Linked DNA regions of Homo sapiens. The protein of the gene in region 1 purifies or fractionates together with the protein of each later gene. This does not show direct contact. Each region holds a gene or a part of one and is shown in the gene's direction. Other genes may lie near its edges.

Region 1 (4,270 bases):
CAGATATACTAAAATTCAAATGAAATGGCCTGATCTATGCCAGATTTTATGAAATGTGTTTATTCTAAACCCAAGAAGAGTATTTTCCTCAGCCTTGTTTTTTCCTTCTATGTATTATGCATAGAAAGCAACTATTCTAAGAGGTAATATTCTGAAATATTACTTTAAATGGCAAGTTTTGTCAATTGAAGATACAACACATTTTAAGTAAAACAGTAATCTCTCAGTTTCCAATAAGTACACTTAAGCTGTGGTTAAATTATATTACCCTAGCAGAAAAATCAGTGGTCTGATAATATAGATGAAAACAATGGTTACAATTTTGACATTGCAAATAAAAACTTCCCAAAATTACACCAGTACACTGTTTCCAAAATTGAAGAGATTAGAGAACAAACAATCAAAAAATTACCATCTCTTTCCACAGGATAGCATAAATACATGTGTTTTCTATTAGAGCTTAAAATAGGAATTTAGAACTAAACTATGATGCAAAATTGAAAATGTGTAATTGATTTAAAATGTTTAGCATATGCTACATAACTTTAATCTTTTCTTTTAAAAAGTTTTCTCTTTATGATATACTATGTGCACACAACCACTTGACTTTCTCCTGACATTTCTCCTTAATGATAAATTGGAAAATTCAAATTTTGACTCTTCAGCCATCAGAGTGTGGAGTATCAAACATTGATTATTCAAACTTATGAACTAGTGAACCAACCCATCATGGCTCAAGAAAATAATTATCCATCTCTGCATTTATAACTCCCTGCTGCTGTTCACCCTGAAGCACACTATGTAGACTTGCCATGTGCAAAGCAGCTTCTTAGCCAATCAATATCCACAACTGCTGGGAAGGATACCTGCTTATCTCTTTGCGGTGCTACTGCCAATCACCAGACTAAACATCATTTCTATTCCATGGCAACGTTTTAAGTCAGACCATCTGGAATGTCTCCAGATTTGGTAAAAATGCAAATAAAACTTTGCTTTACATTCACCTAGCAATGAATAAAAATTAACATATTCTTATTTGACCATATTGTTCTCCCCTCCTGGGAATCCAATACTTTGTATACCTTACTGTAGTTCTAAATAATGTGGACAGTTTGACTGGTACTTTTACATCATAGGTAGGAGTACATTTGTGTAATTCCTGTTTTTCCAAAACTCGTAATGAGTCATTTAACTATCATTAATTTTAGAAAGTAAACCTTTAGGCTAAAAAAACAAATACTCTTTAGTTATTTCAATCTTTTTCCAGAGGAAAAGAGAAAAAAGCACTGGAGTGTGCTAAAAAGGCTCACAGTATTTAGGAGCAATCGCCACATCTTTCTGTCATCCTCTTCTCTAGGTCATGAGATCATACATGTTGCTATTCTTCTGACTTCTAAGCAGGATACTCAAGAGATCCTTCCAAGCAATGTGAGTCACAGGCCCCCATCCCTTTCCCCCATAGCTGCCTCCCATAGTAAAATTCTGTGGGAGTCTGTCACATATTAAACCTATAGATTCCTCTAACCATATCAAGTTCACTACCTCTGTATTGCAGGGCAAGGTAGCAGCTGTCCATCTCACTTTACCATTACATTTATGTAGCTATGAAAATAATGCATACAATTGGAGAATATTCAGTTAAAGGGATGTGTGAGCCTTCTTTATTTCCCTATTAGAAGGATTAGGTTGAAAGAAGAATAAATAGTTGAAAGTATCTAATATGCTCTTCAAAGAAAGATGAGTTTTGAATCACACCTATTTTTGTGTTTAACAATTATATTAATTGCTTTTCTTTTTTAATTTGTATAAATTTATGGGGTGCAAGTGTAGTTTTGTTACATGTATATATTGCATAGTGGTGAAGTCAAGGCTTTTAGGGTATCCATCACAAAAATAATATACATTGTACCCACTATGAAATTTCTCATCATCCACTCTTAGTTGCTTTTATGCTCAGTTCTAAGGTGTCTCCAGACAGACAACATTGCTTTGAGTCATATCAGAGTCAGCATAAGTGGAAGTAGACTATTTAAAGATTGTATTAATATCTGAGGCAAGCTAGAATTACTGATAAGACTGTAATAATGTTACAAGAAGAAGAAGAAGGCACTATAAAGTATTCTTCCTATTAACGTTTTATTCCCTTTCTCTCACTTTGAAAAAGATTGTACTGAAACGGTTTCATAGAGCAATGTAATATAAAACACAACTGAAAAGTAACATAACAGGTATCAAACAGCTGGGCTGTTTCGGATGTCATTAACCTGTGTAGCTGATGCTTGGTGGCTCTGGATGGCCTGTGGCATGGAAGGTGGGATGGGGTCATTCCACCCCTAAATTTTCAGAAATTTCTTAATTTCTTAATTGATCTCCCTATCTTCAGAGCTTCTTCCCCATAACATATCCGGGACTTTGCTTCCATCTGTCAAGTGCCACTGCTTCTAAAAAAGCACCCAGGAGCTCCCACCTGTCCCCCTTTTCCCCCATGTTTAGCAATCAAGGCCCTCCACACTTTGGCCATACTTCACCTCCTTCCTACTAATTCCCAAAATGCATGGCTCAGCTCTGTCAAAATGCTATCACTACCCCCAAGGAACATACTTTGCCCTAAATAACATTCTCAGAGAGACTGAATGTAGTCACCGAATTGCTGCTGCTGAAGCATTTACAGATCCTAGTTTGAAAAATGAGTTAGGCCTAGAATTATATATGTTGCATCTAACAGAAATAACCCAAAAGATGAAAAGAAGTTCCTATAGCCCTTGCTTACATACACTCACACACACACACACACACACACACACACACACACACACAACCTGATGATAAAAGAAACTCAGCAATCTAAGAAAGTAAAATGCAAGGCAGAAGGAACCAAGGCAAGCCAATGAATGCCAGTTGCCTTCTTGGTTTTGAAACACAATGGCCTTGCAAATGCTAATGTTGAAGAAAAAACTATTTCTAAGATTATCAAAGGATAACTGATTTTTAGTTGTTCAAAATAAGGATAATATTACTAATTGCAGTAGAAGATTGACAAAAGCAGGAAGGAGGAAGGGAAAGGAGTTAGCAGATTTTTTCATATACCCAAGCTTATAACCCATACTGCTGGTGGATTCATTCTTGTCAATAAATTACATTATCTGATATCCTAAATTTTCAAGAAAAACAAAAACTTAGCCAAGTAAATTAATCTGTACATAGGATATTTACATTTGTTAGAATGGCAAAATAGTTAAAACATTGTCTCCATGTTGGGAGACTGAAAATAACCCCTGATTACTAGATGACAAAATAGATAAGTATAGAATTTAATAATTATATTATTTAATGATTCATGAGATTACATGTATGCCATAGAGTGTTGTCCATAGGGAGATGGGTTATAATTTTGAACAGAGTGGAAGCCCTAAAAGTGATATTTGTGCATGAGCCAAGGCTTGGCACCATGTAGCTTCAGGATAACAGCTCCGCCATTATGCACACACAGACATTTCCATATATCACTGTACCTCGTCTCTTAAGCAGAAACAAGAATGCAGGGAGATGTATGTATGAGAGAGATGGAGTAAGGGAAAGAAGTAAGAGGTACAGTCCAATGGCTTGCCATAGACGCTTTTGACGTGCATAGCAGGGAGTTGATGCCGTGGATAATATGCCACGTAAATCACGTCTCCACTTAGCATGTGGCACAAAGCAGATCTGTGAGAACAACAGTGATAGAAGCCGGTAACTCTGTTGATTACTAATTTTGTCTACCCTAAGCAACCACCCCTTATTGAGGACAACAATGAAAAATAAACACATCTTATTTCTGCATGAAGTTACCACGAATATTTTGCAATGAAAAGTCAAGACTCTCAATATGTTGCTCTGGCAGAGGATCTGAACAATGTGGAAATGAGAGACATCCACATAGAGCCAGTTATCTCCATGTTCACACAGCCTTTGACATCTTGTGCAACTGGGATCCATCCTTCTGGGGCAGCTTTACAAAAGCTGCTTCTTGACATATCAAATCACCACAGCAAATTGTGTCTTAAAAATAAATTGTCACAACTTACAGATTAGATACCTCAAGCATAGTAGATGTTCAGTAATGCTTGTTGTTATGATTTGATTTGATAAGGGCCTTCACTCTTAAATTAACTTCAAATCAGATTAATCTGAGATATTCAAATTAAAATGATGATGAAGGTGGGGGTGGTGGTGGTGATGATGATGATGATTTGTCAAAGGGATTCTTCATTTATAGACAAGGCAGAAGACA
Region 2 (5,000 bases), on another chromosome or scaffold:
ATACACTTTAAAATCTAATCTGCTTGCCCTCTGATTTGGAGAGAATTAACCCAGAAATTATCCAGGTTCTTTAGGGCTCCAAGACATTCTAAAAAATAAAGGTGAACGTTGAATTTAACCAGTTGACAGTTGTTCTTGGATTATGATCAATCAGCCTGTGGCAGCAGGGCACATGCTGAGAACAAGCCTCAGGTTCTCTAAGTTCTCCCACCACCACAATGTTCAGCTATAGTGAACTCATAGAAACCGTGTGTCGGGGCCTCCAACTTCGCCAAGCACCATAAGAAGTTTGAGTTGTGAAAAAATTTTCTCTACTCAAAATTGTGAAGAGAAACGGCAAGGTTTAAATTACCACATATTTGTCTTTGAAGAACTTTACAACAACTTCATTGACTGTTAAATTTAGATTCATAAAAATCTAAACAACGGCCGGGCGCGGTGGCTCAGGCCTGTAATCCCAGCACTTTGGGAGGACGAGGTGGGCGGATCACCTGAGGTCAGGAGTTCAAGAACAGCTTGGCCAACGTGGTGAAACCCCGTCTCTACTAAAAATACAAAAATTAGCTGGGCGTGGTGGCGGGCGCCTGTAATCCCAGCTACTCGGGAGGCTGAGGCAGGAGAATCACTTGAACCCAAGAGGCAGAGGTTGTTGTGAGCAGAGATCGCCATTGCACTCCAGCCTGGGCGACAAGAGTGAAACTCTGTCTCAAAAAAAAAAAAAACAAAAACAAAAACTAAATGACATTTGAAAGCAATTTGTAGATTTTCACACTTCCTAAGAATTCTCAAAGATGCCAAAAACAAAAATCGCAGCCACTAGCAATTTAAATGACTTCCTCGTAGCCAAATAAATCCTAAGGTAAAATTATAAACATTCCCTTAAATTCAAATTTTATAACAAAAAGAAAGATAATAGGGAACGGAGGGTGAATTATTGTGTTTGATATATTTGGCGGTGAAAAATACATATATTACGTGCTGTTTAGGGTCCACTGAGAGTCATAAAACTGACCCTAGTGACCGAGCTACCGGAAGGACTTGGCAAGGGTCTAGCGAGCTCGGTTATCTGCGTTTTCCAGGTGGGGCAGCCCAAGACCCTTCTCAGACCCAGAGAAGCTGGGTTTCCGCCCAAAGCCCGGCCCCAAACCACCGATTTCCGACCTTTCAACCTACTTTGGCAGAGCAAGAGTTTCCGCGGGAGACTCCCTGCTTCCCTCTGCCCAGGTCCCCTGAGGCCGAGTGCGGTACTGAGTGCTGAGTAAGGGGTGCCGAGTGCCAAGCACTGAGTAACTGGGGGAGGGGAACCATGCAGCTGTCATAAATAATTAGCTCCTGTGAGGAACAGGAACTCCGAGACTGCGGCCGGGCCAGGTGGGCAGAGGTCGCAGCGCCCTCGCCGCGTTCCCCGTCCCCATCCGACGCCAGGACAGCGCCTCCTTAACTGGGGTAGCCCCTGAGAGCGTGGGCGGAGCCCCGCCCCGCGACCTCAAGGCCCCGCCCCCTCAGCGCCTCCCGGCCCAGCAGCTCGGAAGACCGCGAGGCGCGCTTTTCTGACGCATCGGCGCCTTTCGTCTGACGTATGCCTGCACCGCCCCCTCCCCTCCCTGCCCCGCCCCCGCCCCGCCCCCGACTGCGCGGCGCCCGCCCTCCCTTAGTCAGAGCTGCTCGTCTGAGGCTGCTGAGGCGACGGCCGGTGTCGTGGTCGCGGTACCTGTTCCAACACGGCTCGCGGGCCCGTGCCGGCTCCGGTCCCCGGCGCGGCTGTCCGAGCCCCTGCGGCGGGCGGACGATGGTGTGGCGGAGCACGCGGACGCGGGCGGCGCGGCGGCGGGCATGAAGGAGGATGGAAGGGCAGGACGAGGTGTCGGCGCGGGAGCAGCACTTCCACAGCCAAGTGCGGGAGTCCACGGTGCGTGGGGACCGAGGCAGCCCTGACAGTCCCGCGTGCCCGCCCGGGCCCTCCGTCCCCGCCCCCGGGCCCCCGGTCCCCGGACCCCTCACCTCCGGGCCTCGCCTCGCGCCTCCCGCCCCGGCCTCTGCCGCTCTCCCTCCCCACCCCTCCTCTCCCCTCCCCTCCCCTTCCCTCCCCACCTCTCCTCTCCCCTCCCCTCCCCTTCGCTTCCTCTGCCTGCCCCCCCGCTCCGCTCTTGCCTCCCCTGCCCCCTCGCGCTCCCTCCGTTCGAGCCCCGACCCCGCCCCCGCCCCGCGGCCTCGGTGCTGCCCTTCCCTTCCCGCGGGGAGGGCTGCGGTGCGCGCCGCGCTCTGGGACCCCAGGGGCTTCCTCTCTGGGCGGGTGTGCGGCTCGCGCCTCGGGGTGTGGACGGCGGCCCCGCCAGTGCGCGCCCCCGCGCTCCGCCGCCAGGCCAGGTAGGCAGGTGGATGCGCAGGCGTCCCGGAGAGCCTGGGTGGGCCCGGCGGGTCCGGGAAGGGCCGGGCTGCGCGGAGCCCGCCCGCCTCTCGCGTTTGGACCCGGCCGGTTACCTTGTCCCGGTCAACACCTCCTGCCCTCCTGGCGCCTCACGTTTCCATCCCTCTTTCATCTCCCCCAGCCCCCACGTGGGTTGAGTTCGAAACCTTACCGTTTGGGATGAGAATATTGGTTATTTTTGGGAGTGAGGACCTCAGCAAAAGTCCATTTTGCTATGGAAGCAACTTCTTAGGGAAGCAGCTTCTTTTTTGGCCCATGTTCCATGTGTGCTGTTGGCAGGAGTCAGGAAGCGGACTTGACCTTGGAAAGTCTACTTTGATGTTTTTATCTTTTCATGATGCTCTAGAATGTATTGTAATTGGGTTTATCTGTGTTTTCATAACTGTTGTAAAATATGTCAATTTTTTATGTTTATATTTACGCCTCTCCTAAGTTGTCTACGATTCAGTCACACTTGGTTTGAGGTGAAAAAATTCTGCTTTAGAATTATCTAATTTGTGTACTCACTGATCTTGAAAATTGAGAATCACTTTGGAAGTCATACTTTGAATAAAGAGGACATATAAAGTCTGAGCTGGTGGAATTTGAGTTAGTGGAATTTGGTACACATTTAGTTGTAATTTTTATAATTGAAGCTAAAATACACAGAGATAAGTTCATGTAATCATACATGTACCCTTCAGATCATTTCATACTAAACACGCCTGTGTACTCCTGAATCCACCAGGAGTTTGAGACTGGTCAGCCTGGGCAACATAGTGAATCCCCATCTCTACCATTATAAAAAAATAAATAAATAAACACAATTTTACTAGGATCCCAGAGACTGATTCCTTTCCCTCTTCCAATTACTTTCTCCTCCACCAAGGGTAAACGTTGCCCTGGCTTCTAATATCATAGATTAGTTTTTGCTTAGTTTTGAACTTTATGTAAATGGAATCTTACCGTATATACTCTTCTGTGTCCAGTTTCTTGTACAATGTTTGTGAAATTTCTCCATGTTGTATGTGGTTATAATTCATTCTCGGTGCAGTAGTTGTGTGACTATAGCACAATTTATTTTTCATTTTACTGTTGATGGGCACTTCAGTAGTTTCTAGGTTTTGGCTATGAATATATATATGTGTATATATATGTGTATGTATATATGTGTGTGTGTGTGTGTGTGTGTGTGTATATATATATATATATATATATTTTTTTTTTTTTTTTTTTTTTGTGATGGAGTCTCGCTCTGTCTCCCAGGCTGGAGTGCAGTGGCACAATCTCGGCTCACTGCAACCTCTGCCTCCGGGATTCAAGTGATTCTCCTACCTCAGCCTCCTGAATAGCTGGGATTACAGGCACACACCACCACACCCAGCTAATTTTTCTATTTTTATTAGAGACGGGGTTTCTCCATGCTGGCCAGGCTGGCCTTGAACTCCTGACCTCAGGTGATCCACCTGCCTTGGCCTCCCAAAGTGCTGGGATTACAGGCATGAGCCACCACGCCGGGCTGGCTATGAACTTTTTGTACATAGCTTTTGGTGGACATGTTTGTGCATTTCTGTTGGGGATAGCCCTAGGAATGGAATCCCTAGGTTAAAGAGTGTGCATTTGTTCATCTTTAGTAGATACTTTAAAACAATTTTCCAAAGTGGTTGTACCAGTGTACACTTCCGCCAGTACTGACAGTCTCAGAGGTGTGGTTGTTACTCATCTTTATCAATACTTGATATTTTCTGTCCTTTTTAATTTTAGTCATTCTAGCAAGTGTGTTATAGTGTTCATCATACAAATAATTTTAATTTGCATTTTCCTGATAACTAATGAATTTGAGCACCTGTTTGTTTATTAGCCATTTGGAAATCTTGTGAAGGGTCAAATTTTTTTCCCCATTTAAAAATTAAGTTTATCTTTTTAATATTGATTTGCAAGGTCTTTACAGAATAACTTGTATTATATTGTTATACAGGTGGATATGATTTCTTTGTCAGAAATATATACTGCACATATTTCTTTCCCACTCTGTGGATGCCTTTCACTTTTAATGATATCTTCTGATGAACAGAAATTATTAATTTTAATATAGTTCAATTTATTAAAATTTTTTTGAGTACTTTTAATGTCCCGATTAAGAAATCTCTCCTTACTCTAAGACTGATGTTCTCTTCTTCTTTTCTCTAAATGCTTTATTGAATTACTCTTCTCATTTAAATTTGCAATCTATTTCGAATTTATTTTTTTGTGTCTGGTGCAAGGTAGGAGTCATATTTTTTTCTCCCACAGGAATGTCCAATTGCTTCAGCACTATTTAGGACTTTTGTCACAGATAGGTAACTGTATATTCATAGGGTTTAATTTTGGACTTTATGTGGTTTTATTGGTCTATTTGTCTTTAGTTTTATTATTTTTTAAAATTTGAGACAGGTTCTCCCTCTGTTGACCAGGCTGTCGTGCAGTGGCGCAATCATGGCTCACTGCAGCCTTGACTTCCAAGGCTCAGGCGATCCTCCCACCTCAGCTTCCCAAGTAGCTGGGACTACAGGCTTGAATCATACAGGTGTGCACTAACAGACCCAGCTAATCT

Evidence for each region. The genes of interacting proteins can lie anywhere in the genome.
Region 2: the proteins of EDNRA (region 1) and LMBR1 purify together in Homo sapiens (affinity purification with mass spectrometry; 2 studies listed by BioGRID and IntAct, with this or other methods). This does not show direct contact.

What each region holds. Positions count from the first base shown.
Region 1 is NC_000004.12:147,487,371-147,491,640, forward strand, and holds part of EDNRA (endothelin-1 receptor isoform a precursor), read left to right. Parts: intron 1-4,270. UniProt on the Homo sapiens protein: Receptor for endothelin-1. Mediates its action by association with G proteins that activate a phosphatidylinositol-calcium second messenger system. The rank order of binding affinities for ET-A is: ET1 > ET2 >> ET3.
Region 2 is NC_000007.14:156,889,837-156,894,836, reverse strand, and holds the start of LMBR1 (limb region 1 protein homolog), read left to right. Parts: upstream 1-1,653; 5' UTR 1,654-1,833; coding exon of another isoform or gene 1,834-1,843; coding exon 1,844-1,909; intron 1,910-5,000. UniProt on the Homo sapiens protein: Putative membrane receptor.